2 separate regions of the Homo sapiens genome follow, and region 2 is linked to region 1. A link means that fine-mapping ties the variant in region 1 to the expression of a gene that starts in the linked region. Tissue or cell type: prefrontal cortex. Region 1 holds a variant in brackets; the other region holds the start of a gene. All regions are shown on one strand. Distances are from middle to middle.

The links. PIP is the estimated chance that this variant, and not a neighbour inherited with it, causes the effect.
Region 2: it holds the start of AMDHD1, and the variant in region 1 is fine-mapped to the expression of AMDHD1 in prefrontal cortex (CommonMind, PIP 0.92).

The regions. Positions count from the first base shown.
Region 1 is chr12:95,988,380-95,993,379 of GRCh38, reverse strand. It overlaps HAL (histidine ammonia-lyase), which reads left to right. Exons shown (of 21, transcript NM_002108.4): 9 at 575-700; 10 at 2,848-2,987. Among named protein-coding and RNA genes, the nearest start is that of HAL, 5.5 kb to the left of the region's middle. The variant G/C (reference allele first, on the strand shown) is at 2,489.
Region 2 is chr12:95,940,807-95,946,010 of GRCh38, reverse strand. It overlaps AMDHD1 (amidohydrolase domain containing 1), which reads right to left and starts at 2,680. Exons shown (of 9, transcript NM_152435.3): 1 at 2,476-2,680. The coding sequence starts at 2,612. It overlaps CCDC38 (coiled-coil domain containing 38), which reads left to right and starts at 3,397. Exons shown (of 16, transcript NM_182496.3): 1 at 3,397-3,580.

The DNA of each region.
Region 1 (5,000 bases):
ATCCAGTTATAGTCACAAAAAGCTAGTTTCTCAAAACAGCATTTCAAGAACTAGGTGCCGAGGTGAGAAGGGATGCAGAAAGAATCAGCTGAGCCTCAGAAAAAGAAATGGGCCAGGTGGAGGGATGGGGTTGGTATGAGAACACATGTCCCATGCCATGGAGACACTGTTGCATTCAGGGAAGGAAATAAAGCCTGGAACTCAAAGAATGAGTTAGGATGGGCATAGTGAGATGGGAAAGACTGTCACCAATCAGCACCCATCAGATGGTAAAGAAGTTGTGCTAAGGACTCTGGATGCTATTCTAAAGGTGAGTGGGAGGTCAGGGGTTCACTGAAGCTTCCCAAAAAGGGGAATTGAGAAGGCAAAACTGGGGTCTTAACCTTTGTCAGGAAGATGGGGCTCAGACAAGTCAGACAGGCAGGAGGGAGAGTAGTCCAACTACCTGAGCCGAGAGGAGAAGGTAATAGCAGGCTGGGCTACATATGGGAAAGATTGGAGGGAGGGAGGGCAATTGTCAGGAGACAAAAAGGAGTTTGCTTTTCTTGGAGAAAACATCAATTCTGTTTTGCAGGTGTTGGGAAACCACTAAGTCCTGAGAGGTGTCGGATGCTCTTGGCTTTAAGGATCAATGTCTTAGCCAAAGGATACAGTGGCATTTCCCTGGAGACCCTCAAACAAGTCATAGAAATGTTTAATGGTAATGCAATGGCTCCCTAGACGGAACCTCTGTGGAGGCTGGACATGTACCACAGGGTAGAATTGATTGGCCAGATGCTGAGGAATCACCTGAGAAGACATGAAATAATTGAAATGAGTGGGAAATGCCGTTGGCAAAAAGTAGGATAGTTAGATGGGGGAAGAGGAGAAAGTCGATCAGAGATGCTTACTCCTATGAACTTTAACTTATTCTGCAAGACCCTTTCCCTAGCATTTGTCATCTTCAAGACTAGAACAGGACTCTTAAGTCTGCCCTTACATTCAAGCCTGCCTAGAAGAAACTTGGATTAAGTGGTACATGAATATGGTTAGAAAAATTGCATGATATCAATGTCCATCCCAAAGGCCAATTCAGTAGTTCTGGTTGGTGCCTGGGAATCTGAAATCGTAATGTCCCCCAGGTGATGGCCAGACTTGCACACTAAAATCCAACTTCTTGCAAGGGTAGAACAGAAATGCAAAGAGGTTAATGACTCCCTTGTAATCAAGAAGCCATGTAGTGGCAGGATATGAGGGAACTCAACTCTGGAGCTTTCTTCTTGGATAGGAAAATTCTAATGTGGAAACCAGATTTGCAGTGATTGGAGGTATTGTCCCTTCTCACAGGTAAGGACAAGCCTTCTAGGTCAGTGGAGACTCAGAACTCTTTGAGGGGAAGGAGAGGGAGGAGAAGCAGTGCTGAGGCAGTCACAAACAGCAAAACACATTCTTGAGTTTCCATGTTATGGACGCAAGTGGCACGTGAATAGGATCTGCCAATGAGTGGAGAGCAATTTCAATGAGCAGTCTATTGTATATACAGGGCTGTGCTGAACAGACTAGTAGTGATTCCAACACCTATTTTTACTCCTACCTTGGTCTGCCATACTATATAGCCCTAAAATCCCAGATAGTAGCACTCCAACCTTAAACCCACCTGTACTTTATGGGGGAGTCTAAGGCACCTCTGAGAATTCCCCAGCGTGAACTATCAGCCAGAAGTTGGTCTGTGGATGGCACTGCCATACCCGACTGACATTATTTAACAGTTGGAAAAAATGCTGCTGTCAGGAATCTGATTTTATTTCAGAAAAATGAAGCCTCTTTTTTGGTAACTTTTTGGGAATTTCTTAGAAAATGGCACGTGTTCATTGATAAGGGGCAGTGGAGTGTAGACTGGGTGACTGGCAAAATGAAAAGACTCAGTTGCCTATGACTTCTCTTCCCCTGGGAAACCTTGTTAATGCTTTGGTGCACCACCTCCTTCTGGAACATTTTATATTACTTTTCCAATGTTTCCAAACATTTTCCAATAGCTGTGAATGGCTAAACTTGGTCAAATGAATGTCCTTTAATTTCATATTTAGATAATTTCTAACTATTTTTCCTATAATAAACAATGAACTGTAAAACAAAAACAAAAACAAAAAAAAACAGCTAGTTCCTGATCACTTCTTCAAGATATATTGCTAAAATTTCTACAAGTGGAAGTACTAGGTTGAATTAGAGCACACAGATTTTGAGGGCTTTGCATCCAGAAGTGTCCTCCTTCCTTCTTCTTATTTATTTAGGAGACAGGATCCTGCTTTGTCACCCAGGCTGGAGTGCAGTGGCACAATCTCGGCTCACTGCAACCTCCACCTCACGGGTTCAAGTGATTCTCCCATCTCAGCCTTCCCAGTAGTTGGGACTACAGGCATGCACCACCATACTTGGCTAATTTTTGTATGTTTTGCAGAGACAGGGTTTCACCGTGTTGCCCAGGCTGGTCTTGAACTCCTGGGCTCAA[G/C]TGATATGCCCGCCTCGGCCTCCCAAAGTGCTGGGATTACAGGCTTGAGCCACTGCGCCTGGCCCTTCTTTCCTTCTTGCTGACTTTCCCTCCAGCCCTCCTTTCCTCCCTGTCTCCTCTTTACCTTTCTCTCTTCTTCCTCTCCACCCCCACTCCTCTTTTTCTTTCTATAACAATTCATCCAGGTCCCTTACATATTAGCTGGGTTTGAAGAATTGTCTTTCCCCAGGTATCTATGCCATAAAGTGATAGATATTGGAGGCAGGGTGTTTGCGGGGGCAGTGGGGGCACTCACTGGCAAAGCAAGGAGAGTCAGAATGCAGTACTCTTGAACTAATTGCTGCCTACTTCTCTCCCAGCCTCCTGCCTGCCCTATGTCCCAGAGAAAGGAACCGTTGGTGCCAGTGGAGACCTTGCCCCACTCTCTCATCTTGCTCTTGGGCTAGTTGGAGAAGGGAAGATGTGGTCTCCGAAGAGTGGCTGGGCTGATGCTAAATACGTAAGACTCGTAGCAGCTTCTATCTGCAGCAATTGCCCCAGGTTGGACACCAACTGTGCTTGCATGCTTCGTATCACCTAGTCCTTACAACAGCCCAGTGAGGGAGCTCCTACTATCCTTACTTTACAGATGAGACAGCGAAAGCTTAGAAGTCAGACTAGGCAAGACTGTTGTTAGCTTCTATACTCGGCTGTCAGCCTTCTGGGTTTGGTCATCACCTTGGTGAAAAGGCATAACTGCTACTGTTAATCCCAACTATTTATCCTGCACCTACAACATTTCCAGTGCCTAGCAGGGAGGTCACACACTCTCACAATTTTAATTACGAGCTGGTCTCACAGGTGCAGTGGTATGGCTCATAGCACTTACTATATGGCTTCTGGAAAGCAGGTTTCATTTTTCCCTAAGCTCTTACCCTAGTGGCTAATCAAAAAAGCCTGTTTTTGATAAAGCTTTGGTGTTTTCTTCATCTGTGTCTGAATTTCATTACAGCAGCATAAAGCATCATTTAATGTATCATCCCTGATGAACTGCTGGGAGCTTCCCTGATAGTAAGTGAAAGGGGTAGAGGGCCCCAGAAGAGGAAACAGCTAAGGAAATAGATAATCCTTTTGGGGATGCAGCTTCTAGATCATCTGTCTTCCGTGCAGGCTTGTCTTTGATTATTTCACTATGGACAGCGTTTTCCTCCGACCACCCTCATACAGCAATCACCCTGACCTTTCTAAACAGCAAATTCAAGCATGTTCTGGTGAAAACTTGTAATGCTTCCCATTGTCCTCAGGATAAAGGCTAAACTTAAAGTGGCTTTCAAGGGTCTTGTTTGTCACATTAGCCCCTAATCCCTTCTATGTGTGGTTCTGCATTGCAGAAACTGGAGGTTGCTTGGAGAAGGAATGTTCTGGGCAGAGGGTCTGGTACAAATACGTTCTTCTCTCTCCTATTTCTGCTTCTGAAACATCTTCTAGGGATCTTTTGAAGCCAGAAGTTCAAGACCAGCCTGGGCAAGAAAGCGAGGCTCCGCCTCTACATAAAATAATTAAAAAATTATCCTGGCACAGTAGCATGTGCCTGTAGTCCCAGCTACTCAGGAGGCTGAGGATCACTTGAGCCCAGGAGTTCAAGGCTGCAGTGAGCTAGGATTGCACCACTGTGCTCGCTCTAGCCTGGGTTACAGAGACAGGTGTCTAAAAAATAAAAAGAAAAATAGAAAAGCCCTCTAAGAAGCTTCCGTCTCCGCTGCTCCACTTCCTACCTCTCGAGTTCCTTGTGACCCTCCTGTATGCTCTCCTAGCAAATGATTGTTTTCCACTGCACCCCACCCACTTCCCACATCCTCAAGCACTGAATGTACTATTACTCAGATTGCCCTGAGCTTGCCTGTCTTCATTTTGCCTACTCCTAGACCGACCCCAACACCCAGAACAGAATCCAGCCTCTAGCTGATACTTGAATCTGTGAAATTGACGTAGTAAATGGGACCAGCTCTGTCCTTCTCTTACCTTAACTTCCCCTTCCTTCTTTCCTAGAGAGACCTTAACTTAATGACTCTCTACTTCTTTTCTTTCAAGGGAAGATTGTTCTGCCCATCGCCCCCTCGGGATTCTGTCTCCATCTAGTAGAGGGAATTTTATAATCCCCTCTTCATTGGTGCTCACACATGTGCCACAAAAACCCTGCTCTGAGGTTTTGCCAGTATTTAAATGAAGCACTAATGAGGTTAGAGGACTTTTTAGGTCAAGCTCTGGAGGCAAGGGAGCGTGAACTGGGAGGAGTCCAGCCTGAGCACAACACAGATGCATGTATGTGTGTCAGATGCCTGCATGTCAGGAGGCAGTGGTAAAAAAGGTGAACTGCTAAGGTAGAAACTGAACACGAAGGACGTAGAAACCAAAATTTAGGGTTGATTCTATAGACAATGGAGCCCCTGATTTCAGTACAAAAATTAATTGAAAGATAAGTCTGCTTTCATGACTAAAGAACAGAACTAGAGAATAGACCAGAGAACATGAA
Region 2 (5,204 bases), 47 kb after region 1:
TAAATGAATGAACACAATGGTGGAATTTACACCCTATGGCAGACAATCACTGAGATATTTATTTTTAGGAAGGGGGAGTTTCTGGTGTCCCTCAAACCATATTCTTTTCCAGGACTCATTTTATATATCTATAGCATATAGGGGATTAACTATTAGTTGATCTTACTGAGATTCATTCTAATCAGGACACACCATGGTATGTATATACTTGTTGGGAAAAAAAAAAACACACACTGTTAAAATCCATCCAATTCTGGGCTTTGAAATGGAACTTTCTTCCACTTCTCTGTGCTTTTAATCAGTACCCCTCTCCCTATACACACTCACACTCACAGCCTGTGTTCTTCTTGTCTACCAAAAGAAGAGCAGGATTAAGTTGTCCTTGAACACACAGGTTCTGCATAAGGGAAGTGATGTGAAAATTTAAGACAATCACCTAAATAATTCACCCTGAAAACACTTTTACCTTAAAACATTCAGATAATGAGGTGGGAGATATATTTCAAAGCATCTCAAATAACCAGATAATTATTCCAATTCTATACTTGATTTTTGCACCAACCTAATATATAAGACAGTGATGATAGTAAGTGAAAATAAAAACAACACCATCCTGTACCGAGCTAATCATATTTGAATGGCAAAGTTCTCAATATTCTTGTAAATTTATTTCATTGTAATAAATCCAACAAACTGTGAGAACAATGTAGCAGACTCAAATGAAAAAGCCCCATCTTCCAGACCACAAGTCAGCTCCCTCCTTTTCCTTTCCCTACTTTTTGTGGTTTTGATGTGAACATAGAACATGTCTTGGAACCCAGGACTTCATGTTGGTGCATTAGTATCATTTTATTTATGTATTTATTTATTTATTTTTGAGACAGAGTCTCGCTCTGTCACCCAGGCTGGAGTGCAGTGGCGAGATCTCAGCTCACTGCAACCTCCGCCTCCCGGGTTCAAGCGATTCTCCTGCCTCAGCCTCCCGAGTAGCTGGGATTACAGACGTGCGCCGCCATGCCCGGCTAATGTTTGTATTTTTAGTAGAGATGGGGTTTCATCATGTTGGCCAGGCTGATCTCGAGCTCCCAACCTCAGGTGATCCACCTGCCTCAGCTTCCCAAAGTGCTGGGATTGCAGGCGTGAGTCACTGTGCCTGGTCGCATTGATATAATTTTTATAAGATACTCCAGTCCCAACCCAGGTACATATTTTTCAACTTTCTAAGCAAAATTTTAAATAATATTTTCATAGTAAATTGGGAATGTTTTCATCCCTTAATTAAAAATAAACCAGTCAAGCTGGGCGTGGTGGTTCACGCCTGTAATCTCAGCACTGGGAGGCCAAACCAGGTGGATGGCTTGAGCCCAGGAGTTCAAGACCAGCCTGGGCAACACAGTGAGACATTGTCTCTACAAAAAATACAAAAATTAGCCTGGCGTGGTGGCGTGCACCTGTAGTCCCAGCTGCTTGTCAAGCTGAGGTGGGAGGATGGCTTGAGCCTGGGAGGTGGAGATCGCAGTTGAGCCTGGGAGGTGGAGCCAAGATCATGCCACTGCACTCCAACCTGGGCAACAGAGCTAGACCCTGTCTCAAAAAAACAAAAAATAGGCTGGGCGCAGTGGCTCATGCGTCTCAAAAATAAATAAATAAATAAATAAATAAATAAATAAATAAATAAATAAAATTAAACCAACCCACAGTCCCTTAAAAGCTGGGCTCTTGCACAACCCTAAACTGCCTCAGATAAGCCGTGGTCAGTTTGTGAGACTCATTGATCGTGTGCAATTGTGGTCCCATGGCACGCTTTGGATTCAAATTCTCATCCAACTTCCCTTGCTACCCCAGGTCGCCCTCAAACTTTGTTCTTTTATTCATATCTGGCAGGAAGCTCAGATGAGTAAGAGAAATATCTTGTTTTCTGATGGTCAAATCTTGATTTATTATCACTCAGGGCCATTATCGTCTAAATGTTCTCCGTGGTTCTAAAGCTTTAGTGTACGAGATCACGAGGATGTGAAAGGTACTTTTGAAAAATTCAGGTCTCAGAACTCCAGCCCCAGTGATGCTGATTCTAAAATTCTAGGGATAGGGAGTGGGGGACGCAGGTGGAATCAGAAATCTGCCGTAAGAATAAAATAACCACAGGCCACCCTGACAAAGGTGGTCTTCTGGCCTCCCTTTAAGAAGCACTGGGGAGGACCTCAACCCCTTCTGATGGTTGGACAGTGATATTTTACCAGCAGAGGCAGGACCCTGATGCGTTCCAATGGGGTGTTCCTCTCTGAGCTCTTTGGACGGAATGACAACCCCAAGCAGCAGAGCGTGTTAGCAACAGGTACCCCAAAGGCTGGCTTGCCCGTGTATCTCTGTGCAGGGACGCTTTCACGGCGTTGTTTCCCTCCAGAGTGCACAGTGAGAGGAAGAGCGGCCAGCTCCGCCCGTGGCGGTCCCCACCCTGCGCGCCCGGCCACTTACTTGCCCACCACCAGGCTGGCGCCTTCCAGCACCGCCAGGCTGCGCAGCGCATCCCGCGCCAGGAAGCGCTCGCCGCGGGCGCACACCAGCACCACTTGCTGCGCGTTCTCCAGCAGGAGGCTGTGGCCGCTTGCCATGTCGCCTCGCGCCGAGGGTCGCCGGGAGGCCACCGGGCTCGGGCCACCGGCAGGACTCAGTGGAGGACGAAAAGCCGCAGCCTGCGCTGTCCGGGGCTGGGAGGGTGGGGCGGGGGCGGGCGCTCGCAGCCGCTGCCCTTTGCTCGCCTCCCCCAACCACAGCAACGGGGGCGGTAATCATTGCAAGAATGGCAACGAGTAATAAACCTGATGAGGAATCCTCTCTTTTTTGGTCGTCTTGTCCCATCCCGAGTAAACGAGATGGAGACTAGTGTCCCTACTTTTCAGATAAGGAAACTTAAGCTTGGTCACCCCGAGAGATCAAAGTGAGCTGTGTGGATCACGTGGTATGTGGAAGCGCGTCAAGGGTTGGCTGGGTGAGGGCACCCGGAGTGTTCGGGAGTGAGGGACCGGAACCTGGGGTAGAGCCCCGGAAGGGGGGCCATGGGGGAAACCTCTGCCCGGGGGGTTGGGGTGGGAGCCTGGAGATAGCGCTCCTGGAGAGGGCAGAGTAGGGGAAAGCTGTGCCCAGGGGCAGGGACGGGAGCTTGGAGGTAGAGCCCCGGGAGAGGACAGAGTGGGGGAAACCTCTGCCTAGGGTGCTGGGACGCGAGCCTGGAGGCAGAGCCCCGGGAGGGTACTGCGTGGAGGAAACATCTGCCCACAGGTTCTGGGGCGGGAGCCCGGGACGCGGAGGGCCGCGAGCCGAGGGAACCTGGGGGTGGGGAGGAGGGGGATGCGGTAGGGGAGGTGCTCCTGGGTCCGCGCGGGTGGCGGGTGCCCCGCACTTATCCGTTGGCCAGCTGCGTTCCGGGATCAGCTACCAGACGGTCCCTGAGATGACCGGGAACCGGGCTGGGGGAGGATAGAGCCGAGACTGGAGGATCGATTGGCACCTCCGCCCACTTTTCCCACAACGCCTTCCCGAACGATAGGTTGGAAAGGCTCCTGGATCCAAACTCGCTGAGGTAAAATAGGTTTCAGCTCAGTGTCCGCCCCTCCGCATGCCCCCTCCCACCCCTCAGCTGTGTCTGGTGGGCCTACAAGCAACTTGCGACCAAAATTGGAGACAGAATCAAGTTTATGGAAGATGGTCTGTGATTCTCAGCCTCGTCGCTTCCTGCTACCAATTGCTATGGAAACACTGCCAGGCCCAGGCTTTTGAGTCCTTAATTACTTGATTTCGTTTATTCATGTTTATCACAAGCTCTGTGTTAAGTCTTGTGGAACATACAAAGATAGGAAAGGCGCTTTCCCTGCCCAGTAAAGACTTTACAATAAAAGTGATAGATGTGGACACAAATAATATACTATAAAAGCAGACTAAGCCTGCAAACCCACAAAATATAAAAGTTAATTTAGTCTCATTAAAAAAACCTGGAACAGAAAGCAAACACTCCTTTAGATGACCACGATAAATAAGAATATAATTTAGCTTCATATTATGGCCTATAAAAGAGAGATCAGTTAGGAAAGAGAAAGATAAAAATTGGAAAATATATAGACAATGTGAGTGAAAGAGACCCTAAGGGTGGGGGGGAGGGGGCATCAGAAGATTATTCACAGCTCATATACACAATCACAAACAGGTTGTTTGTGTGTGTGTGTGCATAGCTTTTAAAAAGTTTATACATACATATATTTCTATGTCTTTAAAAAGAGAAGTAGAAATAGTGGGGAATAGAAACACATAAAGTCACTAATTCACAGAGAAATATTAAAATTTTCTATTATAAAATTTCTGCTGAAGACTTTAATCAGTTACATTTTGCAATTTTAGGCATATTTGCAGAACTATGCAATTGTATGTATAAAGGATGGGTTAAAATTATAGAAAAATAGGGTTCAATAAACTTGTCTTAGTCTGAGTTCTGTTTCCTATAAGCTGTTTGACCTTGGGGAATTTCTTTACAGTAATTTCTCGAAGCCTCGTTTTCTCATCCTCATCATAGGGAGAGCTGTTTCTACTTTATGGGCTTGTCTGAGTTTTAAATAAAATAAAACATAAATCACTTAGCCCAGTGCCCAGCTCTAAACAAGTAATAGGTATTATTACTATTATTCGTGTGTTTTAATCCTGCTATTTGTCTTCCTGGCCAATTAAGTTAAAGATTAGATTTCAGCCAATAGTATAGTTCCTCTCCTGACTTCACAGACCATGTACTTAAAGCTTGCAAGTTCTGGGTGAGTCTAAAAGAAATTATATTTCTTTTTCATAGGTATTTATGTTTGTGGGTGAACTGTGCATCTGATTCACAGTCCAGACAGACAACATTACCTGATAAGCTCCTGCAAACAGGAGGTTTGCAAAAGCAGAAAGGATGAGTGAATTTCTTTCCTTAGTTACTGTTCAGTAGTTATAGATGGATAAGGATGACACATTTTTCCTTGGTAATAACCAACATCCCGATAGCAGCTCTTATAAAATACTTTTCACATTATCTGACTTGTATATGCTGACTCCTTAACCCATCCTTCCTTCCTCTTGACCTCCAGTTTTTTTTTTTGTTTGTTTGTTTGTTTTTTTTCACTTCGCAAAAGGGGCAGTCAGAAATGTCAACAGAAGCGTCCATACTAAATAGCCTGACGCCA